Homo sapiens: one gene and its partners. The protein of the gene in region 3 interacts with the protein of the main gene of each other region in a biochemical or structural test. Each region holds a gene or a part of one and is shown on either strand. Other genes may lie near its edges.

Evidence for each region.
Region 1: the proteins of PKP4 (region 3) and LIN7A interact in a test that uses a peptide from one of them, tested with the Homo sapiens proteins (one large-scale study listed by IntAct).
Region 2: the proteins of PKP4 (region 3) and FRMPD2 interact in a test that uses a peptide from one of them, tested with the Homo sapiens proteins (one large-scale study listed by IntAct).
Region 4: the proteins of PKP4 (region 3) and PDLIM1 interact in a test that uses a peptide from one of them, tested with the Homo sapiens proteins (one large-scale study listed by IntAct).
Region 5: the proteins of PKP4 (region 3) and DLG1 interact in a test that uses a peptide from one of them, tested with the Homo sapiens proteins (2 studies listed by IntAct, with this or other methods).
Region 6: the proteins of PKP4 (region 3) and LIN7C interact in a test that uses a peptide from one of them, tested with the Homo sapiens proteins (one large-scale study listed by IntAct).
Region 7: the proteins of PKP4 (region 3) and GRID2IP interact in a test that uses a peptide from one of them, tested with the Homo sapiens proteins (one large-scale study listed by IntAct).

Annotation. Positions count from the first base shown.
Region 1 is NC_000012.12:80,847,268-80,851,357, forward strand, and holds part of LIN7A (protein lin-7 homolog A), read right to left. Parts: intron 1,056-4,090; coding exon 984-1,055; intron 909-983; exon of another isoform or gene 832-908; intron 1-831. UniProt on the Homo sapiens protein: Plays a role in establishing and maintaining the asymmetric distribution of channels and receptors at the plasma membrane of polarized cells.
Region 2 is NC_000010.11:48,155,751-48,159,975, forward strand, and holds the end of FRMPD2 (FERM and PDZ domain-containing protein 2), read right to left. Parts: intron 1,621-4,225; coding exon 1,572-1,620; 3' UTR 812-1,571; downstream 1-811.
Region 3 is NC_000002.12:158,662,532-158,666,621, reverse strand, and holds part of PKP4 (plakophilin-4), read right to left. Parts: intron 3,726-4,090; coding exon 3,534-3,725; intron 3,351-3,533; coding exon 3,177-3,350; intron 775-3,176; exon of another isoform or gene 541-774; intron 210-540; coding exon 59-209; coding exon of another isoform or gene 45-58; exon of another isoform or gene 1-44. UniProt on the Homo sapiens protein: Plays a role as a regulator of Rho activity during cytokinesis. May play a role in junctional plaques.
Region 4 is NC_000010.11:95,270,504-95,274,593, forward strand, and holds part of PDLIM1 (PDZ and LIM domain protein 1), read right to left. Parts: intron 1,282-4,090; coding exon 1,130-1,281; intron 1-1,129. UniProt on the Homo sapiens protein: Cytoskeletal protein that may act as an adapter that brings other proteins (like kinases) to the cytoskeleton. Involved in assembly, disassembly and directioning of stress fibers in fibroblasts.
Region 5 is NC_000003.12:197,137,943-197,142,032, reverse strand, and holds part of DLG1 (disks large homolog 1), read left to right. Parts: intron 1-1,768; coding exon 1,769-1,893; intron 1,894-3,641; coding exon 3,642-3,811; intron 3,812-4,090. UniProt on the Homo sapiens protein: Essential multidomain scaffolding protein required for normal development. Recruits channels, receptors and signaling molecules to discrete plasma membrane domains in polarized cells.
Region 6 is NC_000011.10:27,499,870-27,503,959, forward strand, and holds part of LIN7C (protein lin-7 homolog C), read right to left. Parts: intron 2,052-4,090; coding exon 1,933-2,051; intron 1,698-1,932; coding exon 1,626-1,697; intron 1-1,625. UniProt on the Homo sapiens protein: Plays a role in establishing and maintaining the asymmetric distribution of channels and receptors at the plasma membrane of polarized cells.
Region 7 is NC_000007.14:6,509,583-6,513,480, reverse strand, and holds part of GRID2IP (delphilin), read left to right. Parts: intron 1-2,441; coding exon 2,442-2,573; intron 2,574-2,774; coding exon 2,775-2,872; intron 2,873-3,080; coding exon 3,081-3,198; intron 3,199-3,328; exon of another isoform or gene 3,329-3,465; intron 3,466-3,898.

The DNA of each region.
Region 1 (4,090 bases), on a different chromosome or scaffold from region 3:
TTAAACCACGTAGGGATCATTTTTCTGTGTGTGTTCCACTTCAGTACAAGCAAAGCATGACATGATGATAATAACACCCTCTTTTTTTCCCTGAGTTTAAACAAAACAAAACAAAACAAAAAAACCTTACAAATCTACAGTGTTCAGTTACAGAGTAAAAACTAAAAAATCAAGAGAGAAACTAAACAAGCGTTGATGTAACACAAAATAATTAAATGGAAAATTCTACTCATTTTCAATGGTTATTTCTTATACATTATTAGAAAAATAAAGTATTTTTAAAAGCAAGTCATGTTTCTATTATAACATTTGTGTGTTTGTAAAAGAAGAGCTGCATCAGTGATTTTAGTTTAAAATTGGTATTTCCTAATGGCCTATTTTCCTGATAATTTCCTGATGTTATCGGTATAACATTTCCATTAGTAGGGTCTCTACAGTCTCTGGATTTGAGTCTTTAAAGGGCAGATGTGGTCACTACCACAAAAGGTGACAGGCGTTTTCTATAAGGTCTATGCCACATCCTTTCAGCAAGTTACCCACTGCTCAGCTGAATACACAGAAGTATCCTAGATCAGTGGGTGTCAGGTGAATTCTTTTCCTGTCTATTTGAAATCAAATCTTTAGACCGGTGCAAATAAATCTTCATGCACTGAATATGATACAGGTTCTTTCAGATCAGAAGAATGTGTCTGAAAATCATATAGTATTTCACACAATGAACCAGTAGATTTGCTTGTGCCAAATGGACATTAAGTGAGTTTAATGAAATCATTCTCCTTTCTTAAGCTACAGAAGCAGCAGAAACGTTCAATTTTCCATTAGGATTTTTACCTGAGAAGTAGTACTGGTTCTAGACTCTGGGCTGCCACTGATGTCTAAATTCTCTTACAGTGTACACACGAGAATACCTGAAACACACACGCGCACAATCAATTACTAGATAACTGGGGTCAAGTATATTTTTAAAGTTACTCAAGCCTTACCTTTGCTGTTGCCCTCGCACGGAATTCGGGACAGCCATTAACAGTTATCGTTTCATGCATATATTGATACACCTAAAATGTTCACATAAAAAGAAGAATGTGTAAGAACATGAAGAATAATAATTCTTTTATTGCAGAAAGAAAATTATATTTTCACTGTAGGAAAAAAATTCTCTATTGCAAAATAACATAGGTCTGATGTTTGGGAATGTACCTGATAGCACTCCTTAAACAGCAGATATTATTACTCATTGTGATTTTAGATACAATTACAGAAATCATTAAAATGTAGTAGAAAAAAATTGTTTCTTATAAACTTCCAGGGATGGGATTATAAAATCTTTGTATCTATGGTAAAATAAATTGCTTAAACTAAAGTACAGAAAAAAAAAAACTTAAAGGATGCCTTGAGGAAGATGTTTGGAAAAAAGTAACAAGGTTAAATGTGTTGGACTATATGTTCATTTTGGATTTAAATAGTATACGTAAAAATTTATTGCATAATGCATAGCAATAAAAGTCCATTTGGTACTAGGCTAGAGTATTTTTGGGGAGTGATCCATTAGCTATTTCAGTAAAAAAGGAAAGGGAAAAACTGCAATCGAAGGTTGAAAGGTTTTTTTCTTCCTTTATATTAATCTTATTTTACATGCTTAACTCAAAAATTAAATAAGTGAATCCAACATTTGATTAATTCACCCATTCAACAACTATTTGTTGAGTGTCTGGGACTAATCTCTTCCCTGCATTTTTGACTGGCTCATAATTTCTCAAATACATTTGGTTGAATCTCCACTAACGCTGACTCATCTTTCCCAGGTGACATGGTTAGAAGGAAATTGACAAAGTAGTCTGTACTAAAAAGGCAACAGTGCAATTCAGAATCTAACTTTTAGCTCTGAATCTCCACTTAACAATTATGAGGTGTTCAATTTCTATGGGAAATCTGAATGGAGACAGGAACAAGTTTCCAGAAGATCATTTATGGAATCTGAGATATGTTACTGCAAATTCTCCAGGTTACCTGAACAGCTGCTAAACGTACTTCCAGATTATTTCCTTGGAAATGCATTATTTTGTTTCATAGAGACAGCCTTTCCAAAAATAAATTATACTATTTGCTCTAATAGCCCATTTCAGAGGAGGATTTTCCCTGCCCTGCTTCTCTTGTAATAAACTCTCTCAAATCTGACCCTTCATTCCACCCTAGCTCATTATCTCTTGCTGCAAGCATTGCATTAGTGACTTAATTGGGTCTCCCTGCCATCAAACCATATACACTTTGGTGATCATCAAGTACCTACCTGACCATGTCCCTGCTGTGCTCTTGGCTGTCTGCTGCCCTTACTGCAAAGGTGATAAGGGCAAATACCTACAGGAGTCAAGCCACAGATAATAATGCAGAACTCAGCCTTCTCTCTAGTTTTATTTTCCTGTTTTCTTTTCTCCACCCCCACCATTCCTCAAACATATTGAACTCTCCAAGTTACCTAGGTCTCTGCACATGCCGTTTACTCTGCTAGGAATGCCCTTCCACCTGGCAGACTCTTATTCATCCAAATTTAATATGATGATAAAAGGTCAAATTCAAATATTGTCTCCTCTATTAAATGTTTTCTGCCTCCCTCAAGCAGAGTGAGTCTCTCCACAGTTCCTGGTCATCTGAATTTGTTTGAAGTTATTTTGGTTAACATTGCCAGGGAAAGTGACTTTGCCTGCATCCAAGGATGTTTATGAAGACAATCATTTAGCAAATAATTGGAATATTGTCATCAATTGAATAAAACAAAAGGTGATTTTGTAAGTGCTGGAGATAAATACCTGTACCTAATAAATATCACAAATTAAGAATAATTAGCCTTAAGACCCCAAATTGATTTTGAATTAGAAAGTGGTATATTCAAGGAGCAATACTGTGTAGTAGATAATTTCACAGACTCTGAAGATGGCTTGGAAGCAAACCGTAGCTGTACCATTTAATTGTATGATGTTTGTCAGTCACTTGATTTCTCTGATCCTCAATTTCCTCATTTTAAAAATGTGCCTTAAAATAGTAAGTAACTTCTAGGTCTGTTATGAGGATTAAATAAGATAAGAACAATTTGCCATGTTTAGTATGTTTCCAAAAGTTAGCTATCATTGTTATGCTGTTGCTGGCATTTGATGTTTCTCATCTTATTTGACCATGGATCTTTTGGGGAAAATCTCCTAAGATGAGCAGTTCGTGAACACTGTTTACATAGAATTGATCAAGGGCTGTAGTTCTCAACTGGGGACAATGTTGCCCTTCAGGAGACATTTGGCAATGTCTGGAGGCATTTTTGGTTGTCATAAATGGGATGCTACTGCATCTAGCATGTGGTGGCCAAGGATGCTGCTAAATTCCTACAATGCACAGTGAAGCCTCACAGAACAAAGAATTATCTGCCAAAATGTCAATAGGGCTGAGATTGAGAAATCCTGATCTAAGGAATTAAGCTATACCTTTTCTTCGTACGTGCAATGATTGGTAAGCTGTAAAAACAGACTTGGATAGCACTGAGTAAAGGCTCTTGTAAAACATTCAATAAATATTTGTTGGAGTAAATTACCATAATTCTGGTATATATTTAATGAGAAATCACCATGGGCCAAATGTAATGCTAACCATTTTATATCCATGAGCTCGGTTAATTCTCCTAACTTCTTATTTGGGCACTCTACACACAAAGACACTGAGTCACAGAGGTGGGAACATACCGATGACCACACAGCTAATTTGTTGCAGATTTGATACAGCAACTCATCTCTATCTCCCTTCAAAATCTTTCCTCTTTCAACCGTATCAGACTTTCTTATATTAAAACAGCATCAGATCATTACTATTTTGGCAGTATCAGTGTGAACAAAAACTTGCAGGTGTTATGAGAATTTCTTTATATTTTGAATAAAGGAATCTAGGTTTTATACAGTGGCTACCATTAAACAAGTGAGGGCTGCAAATATACAATACAACAATTTTGAAACCAATAAATTCATTAGTCCACAGTGAAATATCATTTTAATCTTCCTTATGATTATAATATATGAAGACTTAGTGGAATGAATCCAATATAATTGCTAGTCTT
Region 2 (4,225 bases), on a different chromosome or scaffold from region 3:
GGTGCTCGACAGGTGGGCCGTGGAGTGGGGAACCGATCAGGTTTGAATTCTAGTTCTGTCACTTACTTATTGGATAACCTTGGGAAAGCCCCAAATGTGTCATGTGTGAAATGGGGGTGATGACAGTCCCCATGTTGTAGGTCGTTGTCATGGTGCAAGGGCCATGGTAAGTGTTCTGTGAAAATGGCCATTACAATGACGCATGACCCCCAAAGAAGATGCAGGGGAAACTGGGCAATGCCCACAGACCATCCCCCACCCCCAGTTGAAGTGGCTTGATAGCACTGAGCCCTGCTCTGGTCAGAGCTCAGCCCCAGTCCACCCAGCCAGAGTGATACCCACCTGAGGGCACCGTATTCCAGGGCCACAGGCTCCTCCAGGTCTTCCCATTCACTCCCACTCTCTGGGGACTCTTCTGGAGGCAAAGACTCTGGGACAGTGCCCCAAGAGCAGAACTGTGGCAAGGGAATGGTCCCAGAATCTGCCTCCAAACATTCTTCACAGGGTAGCTGGCCTTGGCATGTAGAGTTGATGGTAAGATACTCTTCATCCTCCGAGGTGGGAGAAGGGGCTCCACATGGATGGTACATGTCACCTTCCCCATCCTCCCCATCCAATTCAGGACTAGAATACAGAAGCCCATGTTTCTTCCAGCCTTGATAAAAAAAATTCCTCACCCCACCTTCCCCTTGCCTTTTAGAATACTCTGCACGACACAGGCCCGTGAGACTCAGCCAGTGTTCAAACAGCTCATGCCAGAGGCTGCTCTGGGCACCAGGAAGCAAGAAACTTATAAGGCACCAACCCTGGCTTTGAGGAGCCCCCAATTTAATGAGAAGTTGGAGCAGTAAAGAAATGTTACAGTCCATGTAGGAAGTGCTATGATAGAAGCAGCTGGAGCACCTTACCGAGCTCAGGAGACCGGGGGGATGGGGGGGCTTGCCAGAGGGCACAGCATTGCAAGCAGGGCAATGACCCAGTTCTAAGACAGACTCGTCACATGGCAAGCAGAGTCGGTCAGACTTTGGACAAGTTTATTGACTTCTTTGGAACCTCAGTTTTCTCATTTGACAAAACTAGATGGTCAAGAAGCGTCTAGGATTATTGGGACACGTAAATTACATAATTCTGACACAGCCCCCCCAACTCTGGGTTCCTGGTATGGGGTAAGTTTTTAGTAAATGTGAGATGCTGTGATTAGTACTGTGAATATGATGGCTATTTCAACAGAAGAATTATAAAGAAAGGGCTTCAGGAAGGGATTGGGAGTGACTCAAGCAGGCAACCATCAAAGCACTTTGTGCAAAGATCAGGTCCTTTTCTGAGCACTGAAAATTTGCCTATTTAGAGATGCGGCAAGCTGAAGTGACATTTACTCCCCGCGGAAGGACACAGGAGGCAGACGAGTGGTGAAGCTCATTATCTGGTGATGCAGCCGCAGACGTAATGGTCAAAGAACAAGACTTCCAGGGGCTGCCCCAAGTTCGCCACACACGCCTCTTGATTAGAAAGAATAGTCCATGCAAAGGTAGGGCATTTTACACAGCACTGCAGACATGCAGAGAAGGTGCTCAGAAAATATCTGTCGAAAGTCTGGTTAGAGGAGATGAGAAGGAATATCTAAGAGAAAAGCACAAAGATTTAGCAAATACATGGATCCTCATTTCTCAGCCTCCTTACCCCCACCCAAATCAATGGGTTGGCTTTATTATGTGCTGCTGCTCTCCTTCTCCTTTCCTGCATTGCCTCTTTCTCTTAAAATTGGCTCTGGTGCACCCCAATAGCTACAAACCCTTAGATACCCAGAGAGCACGTCCTCCTCCCCAGTAGAGCCGGAAGCATCTGTCCCAAACTGAGCTTCACTGTGAAAGAGACATTATTTCCACTCATGAGAGCTACAAGGTATGTGAAATAGTGAATTTCATGTAAATATATGCACACTCAAGTGTATAAAAAAGAAATTATTCTACAAAGACTGAAGAGGAACACTCACTGTCAAAAGACATTTTTAATTCTTGAGCATTTGCAGGGAAAATTGACTTTAAGCTTGGCTAAATCATGTAGAAACTGTGTTTTCTTATAAACATGGGAAAGAAACATTCAAGAAGTTTTATCAAAGAATGGGAAATCTAGCCTATTGCCCAGGCCTAGGCTCACCACTGTCCCCACCACCTCAAGCAGCACCCCCTTCCCTCCGTTCTGAGCTCACTAAGCCTTGTTGAGGAGTGGAAGATGGCAGCTGTGTGTGTCCATTGGCCACTGCAGCTGCCTCAGTGTCCACACCTCACCTCCCACCCGTAGACTCCCTCCACCTCTTCTAATAAGCTCCTTGCCCTCTGGTTTTGATTCGGAGCTCCAGCTACTGGCTCTGCCTGGACAGAGACCTAGGGAAGCCATCAGCCTGAGAGGCAAGAGGCAAGGCTTCATCTGAGGTTCAACCAAAGAAAAAGCGATTTGCTCCCCACTTGTCCAGGGGGACTTGGTGGTCCCAAGGGTGAAATCTTGGCCATCATCCCACCACAAGTTGGGAGAACGACTGCCTTTCCTTCTATCCTTTTGCACGTGCCATCAGGCTGCCCTTGGAGATTTGACCTGGGGCTCAACTGTGGACATAGGGAAAGGGTGAATAGGGAATAAAGAGGCACCAGAAGCCTGTATGCCTATTTCACGGAAAGGGCAAGACTTGGAAATTTGGAGAATTTCATTAAGATAGAGACATTCTTTCACAGCAAGCCTCATGTTTTGCATGTGGACATGATGGGTAAAGAGGTGGAGTTCTTCACCCAGGGTTCAAGGCCGGCCAGCTCATGGCTAATGTAGCAGGACTTTCAGCAAGACCCTGATGCTGTCGGAGTACACGGGGCTCTCTGCTCACCCCCTGATTCTGTGTAATGATCTCAGCTTCTTCCTGCCCTCACTCTCTGCCCACCAAGCTGTCCAACAGAAGGAGGCTTTTATAGACAGATGATAACTAGAGGAGAATCTGGAGATTTCACGTGGGCTTCCTGGCCAGCCATGTCTCCCATACAAACCAGCAGGACCCCAGAACCAGGGTCCCCACCAAGTCCTGAAACTCTTCAGTGGGTATTTTTAAGAGGAATCCCAGTTCAGCTCTGAAGTCAGTGAAACCATTCTGAAGGCTCTGCTTGCTACAGAATGTTTACTGAGAAAAGACACTGTGCCCAACTTTTCTGGACAGCTGTCCTTTAAAGACTTGGGCCACCAAATTCATCTCTGCCTTTCAGGAGGAAATTCATAGAAGCAGATTGGGCATTTCAGGCTTGAAATATGAAGGTATTATAATTGTCCTATTTACTTACGGTTAAACTCACAACAAAGTTTGGGGTTTGTGTCCCTTCATGTCTCCAGTTCTCCAACATCAGGCCCCATATTGAGGTCTCCATTAGCCCTGATGACACAGCTGGGAGCCCCAGGTCTCTGCTCCTGACAACTGCATTTAGTTTTGGCAGGTTGGATTTACAGTATCTCTAAGACATCAAAGTAAACAAGTTCAACGGACTGCCAGATTTGAAGCTCAGATGATAAATCTGAGCTGAAGTACAATACTTAGGATTTGTCACAGTAGTGTGGACAGATACCCCTGGGTATCTGGGGATACCCAAGGATAGCCCTGGGAGCCTGTAAGGTGTAAAGAGAATCCTGCTAGAGGCAGCACCCAGGATCCAGCCCAGGCTCTGCTGCCTCCCTCACTCCCCTCAGCCACACTCCAACCCAAGAGCAGGCATGACATCTCCCTCACCTGGCAACTGCATCCCTCCCTAACTACTCTGACATCACACCTGGCCTGGCCCCTGCAGTTGAGTGAGATCTCTGGCCTCCTAATTATCTTTTGCTATTCCAGGCAGTGCCCTTCCCCAGAAGGTATATCATAACTTTAGGTTCATTTCCAGGAGTCCTGCTTTATTTTGCTTTCTTAAATAAATGACCATCAAGATTTATACCATCACTTTCACAAAGTGATGCTTGTTGAACTTACGTGCATTTTACTTACATGAGTTTAATGATATGTGCTAGGCAAAAAGAGAAAGAGAAAGATAACCTTAAACATTCTGCAAAGACCAACTTTCCAACCGATAAGTGTAAGCCTTGAAGTGCACATGAGTGGGAGAACTAAATCTTTCATCCTCTCAATCTGTCTCTGTTTCTATTGGGCCAGCATTTAAAGACAAACATTTTGCATACAGCATGGCCCATAAATGCAAGC
Region 3 (4,090 bases):
TTTCATGAATTTTGTAGCTGCTCTCACATTTACAGCTCATCTTGTCACCAGAACATACCTATGAGCTCCTTGTTGCGAACATCTAGTGCCATATTCCTCAAGGCTGTTGCCACGGAAGAAACAACTCTATCGTTATCCATTCTCAGAAGCTCCACAAGGATGGGGAGCCCCTTTTCTTTTCGGACGGCCGCCCGGATATATGCTGCAAACTAGTGAGAAAAATAAGGCAGGAAGTAACATAAAACAGAGTTCCAGTCTCATATGTTACTGTCACCTAAAAAAGATGTTTCCAAAAGATGAACTAATAGATTAAATGGTTTCTTTCCAATTGAAGATCAAATCTGTGGTGTCAGTGAAGAGAAAACCAAAGTTGGGGAGAAAGATAGGCTGGAATGACTGATTTAAAAAGAAATCCCAAAGCCTGAAAATCTCAAACCACCATCTGCCAGATATTTTTGTGCAGAAAAGAGAAGGCAGTGATTACTTTCTATCTCAGATACATAAACATGATTAAGGAAGGATCGTGTGTTTTCTTTGCAGTTGGTCCCCTGCCAAACCCAGAGGCTATAAATAGGATGGCAGAGACAGTAACCCATCAGCACACATGAAAGGAGAACCTGTCTCCATCAAGTCATTTTTTTTCTATATTCCCTGCAACAATATTTCGAGTTCAGAAACCTGTCAAAGAGATTAGTTGGAAAAATCCCTTGCCTCAGAAGAAAGGGAAATCTCCAGAAACATCCAGCATCATAATTCATACAGCCTGGTGAAAAAGTAAGTATATTTGTGTGCAAAATGCATTCTCACTCAAGATTAGTTAGCTGCTGATGCTGTTTTTTAAAAATCCATAGTCAAGAAATTTTTCTGTGACTATGAAGCAACTCTGTACTGTGAGTCAGTTTGTATATCTTATAAAATGGAAATGAGCGCTAAGTCATCAGTGAAACAACCAAAAAGAGTAACGTTAGAAAACGGTTCTTTAATCTTGTTTCCAGCTTTGAGCTTTAATTGACTTTTTCAACCAATGCAAATCATCTTTCAAATTTTAGGGTAATTGAAAGATGCTGCTCATAAAACATATACTTTCCTGCTGTGACCAAGACAGTAGGACAGAGATCTACCAGCCCTTTGTATTATTTCGAACATTAAAATATGTGATTGACCATCCAGTTTCTTGAATACCAACAGAATATTTTAATAATACAAATAAGAGGGAAAGATGCATTTCAAAGATCCTATTTATATTCTGCATATGAAATGCATACTCCTATTTTTCAAATCACATGAAATCTATGGGGGGAAAATGAAGTACATGACTGGTTACTAGGCAAAGCACTCAGGCAGTTTTATGAACTTCTCTCTGAAACCTGCAACAACAGAACCATCTCCTTCTGTCTCACTTGGAGACCTACCAGCCCAGCCCAGCCCAGCCCGTCTCCCTTCTGGAGAACTACAGTCATCACTGCTCCTGAAATAGCTTCTTACTTGATAACATCTGTGGCCACGATTATCTCATTTTCTTAGTGAAGGTCCAATATTTTAACTCACTATTGAAATCGCTTAGATATAATGTTTATATTTTAAATGAGCTTTGCCATCTAACTCTCTCACTAAATGATCCCAGACATGAACTTCTAAATAAGTCAAATCACATCGATTTCAATTACTGTCTTTTATTATCATCAAATGATCCTCTGGTCACAGAAGCTGAAGGTGAACGCTGTTCTACAACATAAATGTTTATAAATACTTATGTGCTGGGAGTATCTCACTAAATCCTCATAACCACTTTATAAGGCAGGTATTAATATTCACTTTATTTTAGGGAGGTGGAAACTGTGGGCAGAGCCCCTAGGCTGCCAGACGGTAAGCAGAGTGGCCTGGATTCAGAGCCAGCACTTACACACTCAGTCACTGGCACTTTAACTAGGAGCCACAACAAAATAACCACACCGGCTTAGCACTAGACCATAGTTATCGCTCTATATTCAACATAGTGGCCACGTGCACGAAACAAACCATACCTAGGCTTATCAATGCTTTTCACTATCTTGAAAACACCATCACCAAAAGATTCTCATTTTGGGGGGTTAAGGTGGGGGAAGAAGCCCACAGCAAGCATTGTAGTAACTCTACTAAAATACACCTGTCAAGAAATTACTAGAGGTTGAAAATGTCTCAGACAAGGACTGTCTGGGAAGTTGCTGGGGGACATTTAGAAAGTTCTGAGAACTTGCTTACAGTGGTAACAAAAGGAAACTGTCTTCAGTTTTCATACTCATACATTTGCAAAAAGATGCAGAAACCTTAGACACAGGCATGTCTGTAACGGTCTGAGAGGAACAGAGGTCCTCTATCCCTCCCCACAGTGCTGCCCAACCTGTGTTCTGTCCTGCCACTCAAGATTTCTCACCTTTGTATTGCTGCACTGGCTCCCAAATCCAATCCCTGCTTCTAACTCTCCCTTCCTCGAATCCACCTTTTGCACTGCCATGGAAGTGGGGGAGCAGTGATGATATTAGCCCGTCTCTGTCACTCATCTGCCCAGACTCTTTCGGTAGTCCCTCCTGTGTGTAGGTTAGGATTCAGCTCCTGAAGTTTGGCCTTCAGGCCTATCCATGATGCCTGGCTCCATGGTGGGCCCCAGTGGGCAGCCAGTAGTCCTGGCCCACACGTCTTCTCTGCACCACAAGACTGTCCTCCTCCTGTTGTCCCTGTTATCTGGATGGCTCCTTCCATACCACAGCCTCAGCCTCTACAGGCTTACTTTCACTCATCTTCAGAGATTCTGCCGGGCAGCATCCCCTTCAGGAAATCTCCTCCACGTCCTTACTCCGCTCTTTTCCTGACCTTCCCTTACACTGTGTGGCTGGGTTAGATGTCTTCTTTCAGGACCCCACAGCACATACATCCTGTGGCTTCTACACTGTGCTGGCACCATCTGTTTTTCTCACTAGCCTTCTGTTTCTCATAGTGAGGGACTTGTATTTATCTTTGTATCCCCAGAGCAACTGCTTGTCTCCCTTTTTTCCCTTTAACCCCTTCACACACAAGCTAAGTAGCTGTGACCCTTTCACCATCAGGGCTGATCTGACTGAGGCAGAACATATATATATAACATTTCAAGTTAGTTTGCAAAGATGGAAAGAAGTGTAGATAAGTGGAAGTCATCCTACCTTCCAGTTGCCAGCAGAGAGGTTCTGGAGAGACCCTGCAGAGCCTTCCAAGGTGGCTGGGTTGGAACTTTCTGCTAGAAGAGTCAGATATGGTTTTACCACCGATGGGTGCCACAGCATCTCAACCCCTTTGGGGGACTTCGACAGTCCTGGGATAGGACCAACTCCATCCCACTGAAAGACAAACAGCACACGTTAAATGGAGGCAGAATGAACATGATCTCCAATACTTGAAAACATTCACCTTTGCGGGACTCAGCTATAGCTATGCAGAAAATTTATTTTCTTGCCAAATATGTGATTCCTCACTCCCAGAAAAATTAAACTTGAGAGTCTCATATAAAATAAAATGCTAACTTGATCTTCTTGCGGAGTCCTCTTTTTCTTTTTCTTCTTCTTCCCCCAGCAACTTGGCTCAGAGTCTTTGCTGGGAGACTCTTTTCCTAGTAAGTCATCCAATTCGTTCAGTCCCAGTAACCGGGCCTGGGGCACCTCCAGCTCCAGCCGATAGGACAGGTTCCTCAGGGTGCACACGCAGTTCTCCACCGTCTGAAACCCAGCATGGCGTATAATTAAAAACAACTCGGCACATTAGAGCAAAACACTTCTGTACTGAACACTACAGACAGGAAATAAATGGGAAATATGAAAGAACTACTTTTTATTTATGAGAACTTGAAACAATCTGAAGAGAGAATTATGATTCTAGAGTGTTTGTGGAATACCCAGATGACAGGATGCAGAGCCCTTCTCAGTCCTGCTGAGGATTTGACTTCATGCCGACCGAAATGCTTGAGGCTCCGGCCCAGTGTTTCTCTTCAGGGCTGCTGCCGTGCAGACTGCACCCATGATGCTTGAGCCTCACTTCTCACTACTGCAGATCCTTGGCGTGACAACAGATGCCCCAACTCCCT
Region 4 (4,090 bases), on a different chromosome or scaffold from region 3:
CTTCCGAAATCCTGCCTTTGCGGGACCCCTTCCAAGGCTAAATGAAAGAAGAATGGAAATTCTACCCTAATTACAGCTCCCAAGGTGCTACCCTCATTCATTCTTTTATCCCCAGCGCTCCTTGCTTGTCATGTACCTAAAGTTACACTCAGTACTCTGCTGCTAATGTGTTCAAGTTTTTCTCTGTTATTGCAATCTCCTGGCATGGTACCCACTGCTCAGCACAATGCAGTAGCAGCAGCATCCTAAGGACATTTTTTTTTTTGAGATGGAGTTTCGCTCTGTCGCCCAGGCTGGAGTGCAGTGACGCCATCTCAGCTCACTGCAAACTCTGCCTCCTGGGTTCAAGTGATTCTCCTGCCTCGGCCTCCCGAGTAGCTGGAACTACAGGTGCACGCTACCACACCTGGCTAATTTTTTAATTTTTAGTGGAGATAGGGTTTCACCATGTTGGCCAGGCTGGTCTCAAACTCCAGACCTCAAGTGATTTGTCTGCCTCGGCCTCCCAAAGTGCTGGGATTACAAAGAGAGCCACCGCACCTGGCCAGGACATTTTACTTACTCAAAATTTTGGTTGAGTTGGATCAAGTGAAAATGCAAGTATCTTACTGAAAGAAGCCCACATCATAAGCACCGTGAAAATCAGAGGGGGGCTGGGCACGGTGGCTCACACCTGTAATCCTAGCACTTTGGGAGGCCAAGGCAGGTGGATCACCTGAGGTCAGGAGTTCGAGGCCAGCCTGGCCAACATGGTGAAACCCCATCTCTACTAAAAATACAAAAATTTGCTGGGTGTGGTGGTGCACATCTGTAATCCCAGCTACTCAGGAGGCTAAGGCAGGAGAGTCACTTGAACCCGGGAGGCAGAGGTTGCAGTGAGCTGAGATTGCACCACTGCACTCCAGCCTGGGCAACAGAGTGAGACTCCGTCTCAAAAAAAAAAAAAAAAAAAATAGAGGGGAAATAAGCAATCTGAAGTTCAAATTCCACAGACCTTTTGGCATGCCTATAGTATATACATGGCACTGAGCTAGGAGGTCTGGGGGATTCTGAGATAGGGAAGGCAGTCCCTGCCCACAAACAGCTTCTAGTCAATCAGAAATGAACAAAACGTTTCCATAGGCTTCACCTGGCTACAGTGAGAGTCAAGTTGTCTGTGCAGCCTTTGATTCTGTTCTGAGCTTCCAAGTGTGTCATATTGCTAGTATTTTCCCCATCAATGGCTGTGATTACATCTCCAATACATAAATTAGCTAGAGCCGCCTTGCTTCCAGGAGTGACCTAGAAAAAAAGGGGAAAGCAGGCTAGTTACTATTTGTCTCCAAACCACTAAGTTACCACCAAGTTAAGTATTCACTGATATGGAGCAAAGCCCTGAAAAAGAAAAGAGGGCTGAAATCATAGCTTAAATAATAACAATCATTTATATTATCATTGACAAAGAGGGCTTTTCTAATATGATCTCATTGTATCCCTATAGCAACCTTATGAGAAAGGAGGACAAATAGCAGTCCCCATTTCCAAGACCAGGATCTGAGGCTTAGAAAGACCTATGACTTACCCAGGATCACCCAACTAGTATATTATTATATTACTGGTCCTCCAACTAGTGTATTACTGAGCCAGGAAACAAACCCCGAACAGATCTGATGTCCTTCCCACTGAACCACGTTTGCTTCCTTAAAATTAGTTAACAATTACATTTAAAAAAACACACACACACACATTTAGAGAACATTATATACTATAATACCCTATTTCTTTAAAAATCTTAATAATGTTATATATACAAAAGAAAGTGGAAACACTGCACACTAAATTGTTCACAGTTATACAGTTTTGCAATGTTTTTTACAATAATATTGAATTACTTTTTAATTTAAAAAATTGTTGACCAGGCATGGTGGCTCATGCCTGTAATCCCAGCACTTTGGGAGGCCAAGGCAGGCGGATCACCTGAGGCCACGAGTTTGAGACCAGCCTGGCCAGCATGGTGAAACCCTGTCTCTAACAAAAATACAAAAAAATTAGCCGGGTGTGATCTCAGCTATTCAGGAGGCTGAGGCAGGAGGATCACTTGAACCCAGAAGGTGGAGGTTGCAGTGAGCCAAGATCATGCCTCTGTACTCCAGCCTGGGCAACAGAGTGAGATTTCGTCTCAAAAAATAATAATAATAATAAAATAAAAATTTAAAAAAAAATTGTTAAAAGCAATCAAGGATATCCTAAAGTATGGTAGTATAGGTTTATACTGGTTTAATCTCCCAAAATGACTAGGGTCATTCCCTATAGACGGCTGGTTTTCTGCAGACTGATGCTTCTAAAACCAGTGGTTCCAAATTGACAGATCATTGATGCTTGGGGGAAGCCAATCAATTACTGCAATAGGTCCTTAAATTCACCTGCCTACAGAGCAATACATGCGGACTCAATACATATCACATCTCCTACACTGATGTACAACCATTTTTCAAGTGAATACAGATGCTATTAGAATGAACAAGATCCAAACTCATTTTGAAATAGTACTCACCTCAGAGTACTATCTCTAACCAAGGTATCTGGTTAGATTTTCTAAACTAAGGTATACTAAAAATATTACTGTCATCATCCCAGGGTAAGTTCACAACTTTTTTTTTCCACATTACAAGACCTTCCTGGATGGGAATTCCAAGTCCGCAGGATCAAGGTGGCAGTAACACCCCCAGGCTCCCAGTGCCCACAGGGCTCTGGCCACCCTTTGGAGAAGGCCCTTGACTCTCGGGATCCAGTTGAGGAAGATCTTATGAACACCTGGGTGTCTCCTTATGGCTGAACCACAGGTAACAGGTTCTTCAAGGCACCAAACCAGGACACACAAGTTGGGTCCTAAACCTCAGTATCTGATGCAGTTTTCAGCAGCTACAGTTTCCGATTAGCCCTCAGCGCAGCTAGTGTGGTGCCGCTATTATGGTGCATTCCCCATCAGCACCCTGACCCCAAAAAATGAGGACAAGTTGATCCTTGAGGTCCCTTCTGGCCCGCACATGCTATGACTTTATCAGGCAAAACTCTCCTGGAATGTGGCAGGATGTGGAAACCAGTACCGAGATCCTGACCTCCTAACCTTCCTTTCTGGCTCTCCCATCATTTGTTTACCAGAGATCTGGGTTTTAGGAAACGAAAGCAGCCTCCTGATTCAAGGTTCAGATCGTCCCCTCATCCAGCCACTGGGACAGGACTTTTTATCCAGGCAAGCACAGGCCGCTCTCATTTCAGTCAACAATGAGAGTTAGCTTCTGAGTCATCCAGTGCATGCAATAAAAAAAAATTCCTCCGTTTTCTGACCTGTTGTCCTGAGAAGACTGATCTGGTGCATCTTCATACACACTTCACTGTTACTAAAGGACAACGCAGGCTCAGTTTTTAAACGGCTCTAAGCATCATTTTATTTGGGATTGGCAAGCGTTCTTGACTGACAAACTCTAACTCCAAGGAGAGCAGCCTGAATCAAGGAGAATAATGCCTTATGGAACTCATTTATCATAGCTAAATCTAGCAGTTTCAAAGAGCAGTCCCCTTAGGATGAAATCCAAAATCTTTAACAAGGCCGCTAAAGCCAGTGCCTCCCTCCCCACCCACATCATGCCTCTTCCCCACTGGGCTCCAGCTACAGGGCCTCAGGACTTTCACACCTGCCTTTACCTCTGCCTGATTAACTTCTCATCTTCCAAGTGTCTGTGTAAACAACCCTTCTTCTCAAAGAGGCCTTCCTTCACCTCCAATCTAAGCTATACCCCCACAGTCATCCTTTTTTTTTTTTTTTTTGAGACGGAGTTTCGCTCTTGTTGACCAGGTTGGTGTACAGTGGCGCAGTCTCGGCTCACTGCAACCTCCACCTCCCGGGTTCAAGCGATTCTCCTGTCTCAGCCTCCTGAGTAGCTGGGATTACAGGCTGCACCACCATGCCCAGCTAATTTTTTGTATTTTTAGAAGAGATGGGGTTTTTTCACCATGTTGGCCAGGCTGGTCTCGAACTCCTGACCTCAGGTGATCCACCCACCTCGGCCTCCCAAAGTGCTGGGATTACAGGCGTGAGCCACCATGCCCA
Region 5 (4,090 bases), on a different chromosome or scaffold from region 3:
AAATTTTCTTAAGATATGTTTTTCCCTCAAGAATATCTGCACTCACGCCTGTAATCCCAGCACTTTGGGAGGCCGAGGCGGGTGAATCACTTGAGGCCAGAAGTTCAAGACCAGCCTGGCCAACATGGCAAAACTCCGTCTCTACTAAAAATACAAAAATTAGCCAGGTGTGGTAACGCAGACCTGTAATCCCAGCTACTCGAATCAGGAGAATCACTTGAACCCAGGAGTCAGAGGTTGCAGTGAGCCGAGATCGCACTCTAGCCTGGGTGACAGAGTGAGACTCTGTCTAAAAAAAAGAAAAAAGAATATCTGCATTCAGTTTTTATTGTATGTTATAATAGTAATGCCACCTTATCTGGCTAGCATTTTATGGAAATCTAGTGTTTCACACAAGCAGATTTCTTAAGTAACTAAATGTGTGTATACTCAAGACTGAAATCCTAGATAATTAGATTTATTTATATTGGAATAGAATCTGAGAAAAATAAATCTGAGAGAGTCTCTTACATGTATATCTTTATTGCCATCTACTTAAATTCGGATCACTTGCTCAAGTTGGGTGGCTACTGGAGTAATATTCAAGTAAGCACAGTATTAATGTACTGTACATACTTTAATATAGTAGTTTGTGATGTCTCCTAACTTTTTATATTATTGATTTTTTATCTTTTCCCAGGGCCTTTTAAATTCCTTTTGTTTAGTTAGGACTATACATTGTATTTTTCACTGGTTGAAGAACTTGAGTACCTAAGTAATTTGGTAACCTCCCATAATCCACTGGTACTGTTCTTAAGATTCAGGTAATTCATGAAGTTAGATTGAAAAACATTTTTTTATTAAAATAGAATTTTAAGACAAATGGTGGTAGAGTGGGTGTTTACACTGTTTAATACTAACAGTTAAATGATAGGTCCACATATATTTGCTTACTTGAGTTGCCTGAAATTCAGTTAGAACATTCTTCAAGAAATAAACATTTTTTAATACCATTGGTTAAATCAATTATTTTTAAAGGCTTTTTGTAGCAGTCGAACCCTTTCTGTGAAGAACATATTCAGAAATCTTGTTTCTCCAGTTCATAAAACAAGCAAAAAGTAGAGCTGCTTTGGCAAAATTTACTTTGCTGTCAAGAAAATTCACCAATGTTAAGTTCTCAGGTTGGTCTTTCAGTCAGTGTGAAACAATGCCTTTTGCTAATCGGGTATATTGGTTAAACATGTCAGGGACTGATGGCAGCTATCACTTAGCAGCCACAATTTGGTCATTTAAAAATAAGCTGATGTCAAGTTAGCAGAAGAAAAGCACCATCGCCACCCCCTTTTTTAAAGGCTAAAACAGTATATGGGTTTTGCCTACTCAGAAATAACAGCGGGAAGATCACTTCAGCATTTGTCTCTTAGGAGAGATGTGCCCTACCAAACATGGCTGAGGTGCAGTCTAAAAGAAACAGACTTACAGTGACACCTCTGCAGATGGGTGACTAATCCAACGACAAGTTGCACATACTTTTAAAGAAAGAACTGTGGAGTATACTTCAAAAGTCCTTGGTGTATTTTCTTGAACCTCACCTGTTCAGCAGTAATGCCTCTGAAAGGACTTTCCTCCAGAACAAGTCCATTTAATTTAGAATCTTTATATTACTCACCCATATACCTTTATTTGTTGTGTTCCTTATGTTAGTACAGTTTCTGCGTCCTTTAATGACAGGAACCTGTCCATAAAGATAAATCATATTCAGTCTCAATTTTTTTTCTTCTATCCTCAGGGAAATTCAGGGCTTGGTTTCAGCATTGCAGGAGGTACGGACAACCCACACATTGGAGATGACTCAAGTATTTTCATTACCAAAATTATCACAGGGGGAGCAGCCGCCCAAGATGGAAGATTGCGGTATGTTTTGCGCTTTTTATTGTGATGCTGAATCCACTTTGTGTATTTTTCTTGAAGCAGACTGGATAAGGGATAAATACAAATAACAAACACGATCATGATAACTAGCATAGGGTAGATGCTTTAACAACATTCAAGTCAATGAATGAGATAATTATGCTCTAAGCATTGTGTTCCTGTTTTCATTTAGACTCCAGTTTTATCTTAGATATTATAACATTTTGAATAACAAATTTGGTTGATGGTTTAAATCTTTGTGAGCATATTTATAGAAATCATGAGTTTCCCTTTGTGTTTTCAGATACACTCACAGAATATTTTCCATTTCCTCTCTGGCTGGGAAACATGTGTATAAACTTATTTAAGTACACTCACAGAATATTTTCCATTTCCTCTCTGGCTGGGAAACATGTATATAAACTTATTTAAGATACGGAGGATAGAGGATCACACATCCATGTTGAATCCCACACCACAAAGACTATATGCAAACTTTAAATAATATATTTTCTTATTGACTAGATGAAAATAACATTTGTCTCTGTTTAAATTTAGTGTTCCATTTTGGAAGATATATTTTGCAAACTTTGATTTTTTGAGGGTCATAAATTATGTCATTTTTCCTATTTCCTTGTTTGTTGTTCAAATACCCTGAAGTTTTAGGACTAAAGAGTTTATGTAGTCTGTTAAAAACAGCATCTTATTTTAAGGACGTTGATGCCTTACGCAGTTTTTGAATTTCTAAGCTTTATAATTCTCACTGGGTATGACAGGTGGTATATTAATGAAATCAAATAGATATAAAAATTAATCATTTGACCATTCATGTAAATGTAGACATTTACTTCCTGATTCTGTTAGATATAGAAGCTTGTCAGGACCAGTTTTAATATTTTAATTATGTTTTGTTTACCCTCTCTACCCAATTTGAGATGACCATCTTTTTTTCCTGGTGGAATACCATGCAATCAAAGAGACCAGAACTAGGGAAAAGGCTAAGACTAGGAACAAATCAGACTTTTAAAAAACATAACACCATGGCAAATTATAAGTTCTTTACCTACGAAACCTTTGAATTAAGTGACCTAATCTTTATATAAATTTCAAAAAATAACTTAATTGTTTTATGTCTAATATATAGGTTGGAATAGGCACTCAGAAAATTATTTTTACTTTATCTCAGTTTTCACACTATCTCTGTGACCTTAAACTCGTGATGTGAGCCTCAGTTTTCTTATCTTTGAATCACAGCTCTGTCACTTATTATCTGGGTGGCCTTAGGAAAGTTATTTACATTCTTTGTGCCTCAGTTTCTCCATCTGTGAAATAGGGATTAAAATATATATTAAGCTTACAGGTGTCATGAGGGTTAAAATACCAAGAAAGTGCCTGGCATGTGGTTAGTGCTAAATAAATGTTTGCTATTTTTATAAAGTGTGTCTTAATGCCTACACAGAATAAGCATGCAGGAAGTATGCAAATGGTAGCTGTAATTATTATTTAACATTTTTATATAATCTATTATTTTCACTATTTCTTTTGTTCCTTTTGCTGGCCCTTGGGAAATGTTTGTATTTGTTTATATTAGTTTTTGATATACTTTCTTCATTTATGTTTTCTGGAATTACTCCAGAATTATTTATAATTCTCTTTACCTTAAAAAAGAAGTAACAAAAAATTGGTAAAGTGGAAAATTTATATTTAAATTATATTTAATTTTTATTTTTAATATTTAATTGTTTTCTCAGGGTCAATGACTGTATATTACGAGTAAATGAAGTAGATGTTCGTGATGTAACACATAGCAAAGCAGTTGAAGCGTTGAAAGAAGCAGGGTCTATTGTACGCTTGTATGTAAAAAGAAGGAAACCAGTGTCAGAAAAAATAATGGAAATAAAGCTCATTAAAGGTCCTAAAGGTATGTGGTAAGTCAAACTAAGATAAATCTTTAAGAAATCTCTGAGTTAAATATACCTATGAACTTTATCTGTGACATACATTCCAAGTACAGTATTAGTAATATTCTACAGAACTTGAGTGGATTTTAATTTCTCCGTTATTTCTACTGATTTTTGTCTTACGTAGCATTTTAGAATATTTACATTTCTACCAAGATTGCAGCATTTGAAAAGTTCCTTTTTTTGCGGGGTTTTTTTGTTTGTTTTTTTGAGGCAGGGTTTTGCCCTGTCACCCTGGC
Region 6 (4,090 bases), on a different chromosome or scaffold from region 3:
GCCCGCCTTGGCCTCCCAAAGTGCTGGGATTACAGGCGTGAGCCACTGCGCCTGGCCTCTTTTGTCTCTTTTTAAAAACTACTTTTGAGCACGTATTTTTGACGTCTGAATGCTCACAAATTCACTGGTGATTCTGAGAAGGTAAGCTAAACAGAAGGTATTTTAGAGACGACAAATGAATAATTTCGAGTTATGCAGGAAATGTTACGATTTTTTGTTATGATTTTTTAGGTCATTCCTAGCCCATTCAGTGCCCACTCTTTTGTGCAGTCCTGTATGCGCAGGGCTTGGCAAGCAGACTTACTGGGCAGACTGATATTGTACATGGTAAGGAGGAAAACCCCTTCCCCAGCATGCTAGCAGCCCTGGGCTTTAGATCTGGATCTCCCAACTCCTTCAGGAGCCTTTGTGCAGGACACAACCTACCTATATAATCAACATGGAGTTGCCCTTATATGTAATCATTTTGGCTTCTGTACTATTTGTACTATATACTAAATATCTAAGATGTCAAGAAATAACTCAATATTGAGAAAAAGAGAGGTACATATAGCCAATCTGAATGTTTTGTTGCTTTAGTTAACTAGACACAACTAAAAATCCCCACAGAAGATGAAACAGAGCCGTATCTTCTTTAAAGCTCAACTTTAGACTAATCCAAACTAATTATAAAGTTGAGATTTTGTTTCACTTTGCTTTAAAGGGTAATTATCTAGTACCATTTTTTTGTGATGGATCACAAAAATGGGGAGGAGGAAAGAAATCAAGATTTACTGAACACCCGTTATCTTTGAAGAAATCAAGATTTACTGAATACCCGTTATCTTCGAAGCTCTGAAAAAGGCCTCATTTTTCAGATAATGGAATTAAGGCTCAGAAATTCAGTAGGCTATCAAACTCACACAACTCAGCAATTAAAACCATGTTTCTCTGGTCTTTTCTACACTGATAAACTATATCCACATGTTTAAGTATTTGTATTCAACAAAGAATCCACCATTTCCTTTTGTGAGCCAGTAACTATCCATAAAAAACTATCTGCTGATGATTAATTTAAGTCACCGACTGCTGATATTACCCTGTTCAAACCCCCTATCATGAATAGTGAGGTCAATACCTAAATTATTTGAGGAAAACAATGGCACAGAAATGCAGATAATGTAAAGAAGAAAGCAAAAATCAACTCGGGGAAGTACCCCAGCTCTATCATATGCTATTTGTGTGGTTTGCGGCAAATCACCTCATGCTTCCTCATCAATAAGATGAGGATAGTAATTCATATCTTAAAATTCTGATTAGATTTTGTATAATGAATATTATATAGTATCATATATATAACATATACAACACAATTATATATTGCATGATACATATTGTATGCAAGTACATTTCTATTGCATTATCTAAACTGCATGATAAAATAGCTTATGTAAGCTATTTATCATGCAGCATTTATGTAAAGGCAATAGAAACAAATGTCTTATTTCTTAGTACTTGAGAAATTTGGTGTAGCTTGAAAGATACATGTTAGTCTTCAAAGTAAGTTTATTATGAATTTAATAACTCCATATTTTAAACTTCTAATTTATGAAGAATTCTTACTTTTGGAAAACAAAAAAATTTACCTTTGCAGTAGCGTTCGCTCTCACTTCAGGACTGCTACTGATGTCCACAGTCTCATAGACATGTTCATATACCTGTAAAAGCCAAAGTTATATCTCAGAATATACCATGCTTGAGTTCTCTGTGAAGTTAAAATTTCAGGCAAAGTTATGCATCTTTATAAAATGGTTTTATCAGAAATTCCAAAAATGAGAGGGACTGGTTTTAATGTTTTCTAAAGTTTTTCTTAAGAAATGTTGAACCCAAATTTAGAGTATTATCTGACCTAATTAACTCAAATTTTTGTAAATTTTAATGATGTTTACTCACCTCTCTCACAGCATTGCAGAATTCACTTTGAAGGACTCTTTGCAAAGCCTGAAGTTTCTGTGGTGGTACTTCTCCACTCCTTTGTAGTTTTTCCAATAATTCAATTGCTCTACAAATATCTAGAGTTAAACACACACACAGATAATTTTCTCCAAGGGTTTTCTCAATGCCTATGTAACAGTGGGGCAGTTAGGATTCATTCCTCAAGGGCAAATAATATACAGACAATCGAGGGGAAAAAAAGCATTGAATTTGCACATTTGGTGGGAAGGAGACTGTGTGTGTGTACACACATGGAGGGTGAGAATGTAAAATGTAAGAACACTAAATTTTACAGTAGATAGGAAAAACTACTGAGATTACAGAAGCATAAAATAAGACCTTGGAGAAACACAGGCAAATTGAACACAAAATACCAAATGTCATCGGAAAGGACTGTGACTCAAATGTGACCGATACATGAACATTGTACTGCTTCAGAAAAGCTAGCAATATTGTCAGAAACTAGTCAATAAAAATTTACCTAATTATTATTAGTAACCAAAGCACTGAACAGTACAAGGCACTATAAGCTAGTAAAATCACTGGTCATTCCTCGAAAGAAACATGATACATAGGTAGATAACCACTCGAGAGCAGATGCAGTTAGTGGCAGGGACACATTTAAAACAACCATAAAAATGCAAAAAACAAGCAGTACAAATGAAATAAACTGATTTTTTTTCAACTTAATTAACACTGTTAATTCAAACAAGCTCCAACACTTATGTTTACAAAAAAGAAAAATAAAAACAATTAGCTTTATCAATCTGGTCTCAATACCACCTGTGTGACCTTGGGCAAGTTACATGATGTCCTTATGTCTCAGTTTCTTTCACTGTACAATGGAAATAACAGTACCTTCCATATAAGGGTTATGAGGAAGAGTTATGAGTTCAGTTAACAACTGAACCACAAAATACATAAAAAAGGGCTTAGCAAGCAAAAGTGTTATGTTACATTGGTACCAATTAATCATAAGAAATATTGGCTGGGAATAGTGGCTTATGCCTGTAATCCCAGCACTTTGGGAGGCCGAGGCGGGTGGATCACCTGAGGTCAAGAGTTCAAGACCAGCCTGGCCAACATGGTGAAACCCCAACTCTACTAAAAAAAATACAAAAATTAGCCAGGCATGGTGGCGGGTGCCTGTAATCCCAGCTACTTGGGAGGCCGAGGCAGGAGAAGCGCTTGATCCCAGGAGGTGGAGGTTGCAGTGAGCTGAGATTGTGCCACTGCACTCCAGCCTGGGTGACAAGAGTGAAACTCCATCTACAAAAAACCAAACAAAACAAAAACAAACAAACAAACAAAAAAAACCCTAAGAGGTTGTATACATTTATACAAATGTATGAAGCACATTAGGGAATTCTCACTGAGAAGTGTGAGGATAAGTGTTTTATGAATTGAGACATTTTAGAAGATTCAGGAAGTCAGCTATAACACTGTTAACTATCTCTACTTTTATTTTTCCAAAAACTGTTTTGGTATACTGTTTTTGTACCCCTGGTACTACAATGCCCAGTATTCTATTATTGCTTTGCTTCCTTTTGACTTAAGTAGAAGTTCCTGATTTCGTTACACTCAAGGACTGGAAATTTTTCTTTATAGAGTTAGTATGGCCTTCTTCGTGTTTGCAGATAGAAAACTATGAATAAATGTAGTAAAGAAAGATATTTATTTATTTATTTGAGATGGAGTCTCACTCTGTTGCCCAGGCTGGAGTGCAGTGGCGCAATCTCCACTCACTGCAACCTCTGCCTCCCAGGTTCAAGCAAGTCTCCTGCCTCAGCCTCCTGAGTAGCTGGGATTACAGGAGTCCACCACCATGCTCGGCTAATTTTTGTATTTTTAGTAGAGACAGGGTTTCACCCTGTTGGTCAGGCTGGCCTCAAACTCCTGACTTCATGATCCACCCACCTCAGCTTCCCAAGGTGCTGGGATTACAGGCTTGGGCCATCACACCTGGCAGAAAGATTATTTATTTATTTATTTGAGATGGAGTCTCCCTCTGTTGCTGAGGCTGGGGTGCAGTGGTACGATCTTGGCTCACTGCAACCTCTGCCTCCAGGGTTCAAGTGATTCTCGTGCCTCAGTCTCCCGAGTAGCTGGGACTACA
Region 7 (3,898 bases), on a different chromosome or scaffold from region 3:
TAGGAGACTGAGGTGGAAGCATCACTTGAGCTCAGGAGCTCAAGATTAGCCTGGGCAACATAGCAAGAGCCTGTCTCTACCAAAAAAAAAAAAAGTTTTAATTTAGCCAGGTGTGATGCACACCTGTAGTCCCGGCTACTTAGGAGGCTGAGGTGGGAAGATGGCTTGAGTGCAGGAGATCAAGGCTGCAGTGAGCTATGATCAAGCTACTGCCTCCAGAAAAAAAAAAAGGAAAGAAAAAAAGAAAAAAGAAAGAAACTCACGTGGTTGCCAGACATGCCAACACCACCACCAGGATCATGAGCACACGACCACATCCCACCTGGCTGGTGGGCTCCCAGTGTACTCTTTCTTGCACACACACAGGCCTGCAGTGCCATGTGTGGCTGCCACCTGTCTGTTCAGCGTGCCCTCCGAATGCCCACAAACCCCTGCACTCAGCATGCAGGTCATGTGGATGGAAGGTGTGCCGAAGCCTGTGTTCTACCCTGTTCTAGGCATCCTGCACCTGCTATGAAAGCCGCTGCAGGTGCAGTGGTTCACTCTTGTAATCCCAGCACTTTGGTAGGCTGAGGTGGGTGGATCACTTGAGGTCAGGAGTTCCAAGTCCAGCTTGGGCAACACAACAAGACCCCCATATATTCAAAATATTTAAAAATCAGCCAGGGGTGGCCGTGCGCGGTGACTCACGTCTGTAATCCCAGCACTTTGTGGAGCTGAGGCAGGCCAATCACGTGAGGTCAGGAGTTCGAGACAAGCCTGGCCAACATGGGGAAACCTCATCTGTACTAAAAATACAAAAATAAGCCAGGTGTGGTGGTACGCAGTTGTAATTCCAACTACTCGGGAGGCTGAGGCAGGAGAATTGCTTGAACCTGGGAGACGGAGGTTGCAGTGAGCTGAGATCGCACCACTACACTCCAACCTGGGCAACACGGTGAGACTCCATCTCAAAGAAAAAAAAAATAAAAAATTAGCCAGGCGTGGTGGTATGCACCTGTAGTCCCAGCTACTTGGGAGGATGAGGTGGGAGGAGCACTTGAGCTCAGGAGTTGGAGACCAGCCTGGGCAACATAGCAAAAAAATTTGAAATTAGCTGGGTGTGGTGGCACACACCTGTAATCCCAGCTGCAGGGGAGGCTCAGGCAGGAGGATCTGTTGAGCCTGGGATTCAAGGCTGCACTGAGCCTTGATTGCACTCCAGCCTGGGGGACAGAGTGAGACCTGTCACAAAAAAAAAAAAAAAAAAGAAGAAAAGAAAAAAAGGCAGGTGTGGTGGCTCACATCTGTAATCCCAGCACTTTCAGAGGCTGAGGCAGGTGGATCACCTGAGGTTAGGAGTTGAAGACCAGCCTGTCCAATATGGTGAAACCCCATCTCTGCTTAAAAAAAAAAAATACAAAAATTTAGCCAGGCATGGTGGTGCATGCCTGTGGTCCCAGCTACTTGGGAAGCTGAGGCTCGAGAATCATTTGAACCTGGGAGGTGGAGGTTGCAGTGAGCTGAGATTGTGCCACTGCACTCCAACCTGGATGAGAAAGCCAGACTCTGAATAAATAAAGAGAGAAAGAGAGAAAGAGACAGAGAGAGAGAAAAGAGAGAAAGAGAGAAAGTGAGAGAAGGAAGAGAAGGAAGGAAAGGAAAGGAAGGAAAGGGAAGGGGCCGCTGCAGAGTTGCTGGTCCTTGTGTGCCCATGAGCTGCAGTCCCAGGGACCCACAATTTGCTAGGGTTTTAGCGAGAAGCTCAGGATCCATGCTGGACCACACATGCCTTACATATCTGCGTAGGCTCAAAAAACTTCTATTTTGGCCGGGAGCAGTGGCTCACACCTGTAATCCCAGCACTTTGGGAGGCCGAGGCAGGCGGATCACCTGAGGTCAGGAACTTGAGACCAGCCTAGCCCACATGTTGAAACCATATCTCTACTAAAAATACAAAAATTAGCCAGGCATGGTGACGGACACCTGTAATCCCAGCTACTTGGGAGGCTGAGGCAGGAGAATCGCTTGAACCTGGGAGGTGGAGGTTGCAGTGAGCTGAGATTGCACCACTGCACTCCCACCTGGGCAACAAGAGCAAAACTCAGTCTCAAAAAAAAAACACTTCTATTTTGCCCATAATCCTCTCTGGGCAGCAGTGACTTGGCCTGGGGCAAGCACAGGGCGTTGAGACTCTGGAAGCTGTTGTCATGAGATCTCTGCTAGGCCCCTGAGTTCAGGCTAGCTGCATTCTGGTGCTGCATTCTGGTGCTGCTCCTGGCACCTGGTTTCTTGCCCTGGGGCTTCCCCTCAAGAGCTGTTCTGGAGGCAAGCAGGGCAGGCCCCGTAGCTTGGGGTCTGCATATTGGTGCAGATGACATCTGCCCTCCCCTCCCTGTTTTGGAGGTCCCTTGTCTGGCTGAGAGGGCAAGAGGGCCCCATGTTCCCTGCATGTCCCACAGCAGAGCCGGAGCCTGAGCTGGACCTGGAGTCCGAGCCCACGCCTGAGCCCCAGCCGCGGAGCTCCCTGCGGGCTTCCTCCATGTGCCGCCGCAGCCTCCGGTCCCAGGGCCTGGAGGCCGGCCTCAGCTGCGGTAAGGCTGGTGTCAGGGGGAGGGTATGAATGGAGCTCAGTTTTCCCACCTGCAAAATGGGCTTGGTGAGGTGGGGAATCCCAGGGAATGGGGCTAAGCAGGGCTCAGGATTGGCCCTCCTGGGTCTGCGGGGCATGTTGGTTCTGGGCCGGGGCCTGAGCCGTAGAGCTCAGATACGGTAATGACATTATTCCCCGGTAGGTCCCAGCGAGTGCCCTGAGATGCCTCTTCCCCTGATCCCAGGCGAGCGCCAGGCAGGCGACGGCACGTCCCTCCCTGAGACCCCCAACCCCAAGATGGTGAGACCTTCTCTGCCCTCCACGTGGGGTCAGTAGGGGGCAGGGAATGGACGGTCCATAGGACTGGGCCCAGGAGACCCAGGCCAAGGCGTCCCTGTGCTGCTTCAGGCTGGGGCATATCCCTGCCTCCCGGCCCACCCAGGCCTGGACCACATTAGGGCTACGAGGGGAAGCAGAATGGGCTGGACTCTCCCCCGTCTCCCTCCAGATGTCAGCCGTCTATGCAGAGCTTGAGTCTCGACTGAACAGCAGCTTCAAAGGGAAGATGGGGACCGTGTCCAAATCCCGGGCTTCCCCTCCAGGCCCCAGCCCAGCAGTCACCACAGGTAGGGCTCCAGCCTCTGTCATCTACTGTCTGGGTGTTTCCCTCCACCCCAGGCTCAGCCCTGGAGCTGCTTCTCTGCTCCATCAGGGTCAGGGTTGTCCCAGTCCCTCCCATGGCCCTGTGACCCTCACCTCAGCTGTGGATCAAGAAAGTAGCCTGGGTACCGTGGGTCGTGCCTGTAATCCCAGCACTTTGGGAGGCCGAGGCAGGAGGATCAATGGAGCCCAGGAGTTTGAGACCAGCCTGGCAACATAGTGAGGCCCCATCTCTAACAAAAAAAATACAAAATTAGCTGGGCATGGTTGCATATGCCTGTAGTCCCAACTCCTCAAGAGGCTGAGGCGGGAGGATCACTTGAGCCCAGGAGTTCAAGGCTGCAGTGAGCTATTTCGAACCACTGCACTCTAGCCTATAAGCAACAGAGTAAGACCCTGTCTTAAAAAAGAAAAAGAAAGAAGGCAGATGCCTGATTCTGAGGAAGTCCCCGAGTTAGCAAGTGGTTATTGGATAAATGATCAAGTGCAACGCGTTGTACCAGCGTTGGCACAGCTGGGAAGACAGTTGCTCTGCAGCTCAGAAGGCAGGAGCCCTGGGAGGCCCTCCTGTGATCTCAGGGCTTGCTGGGTGCGCGAGACGCTCCATGACTGTGGCTCTGGGCCCTAGAGAAACCCCTCCACCCTTTGAGTTAATGGTGTTCAGTG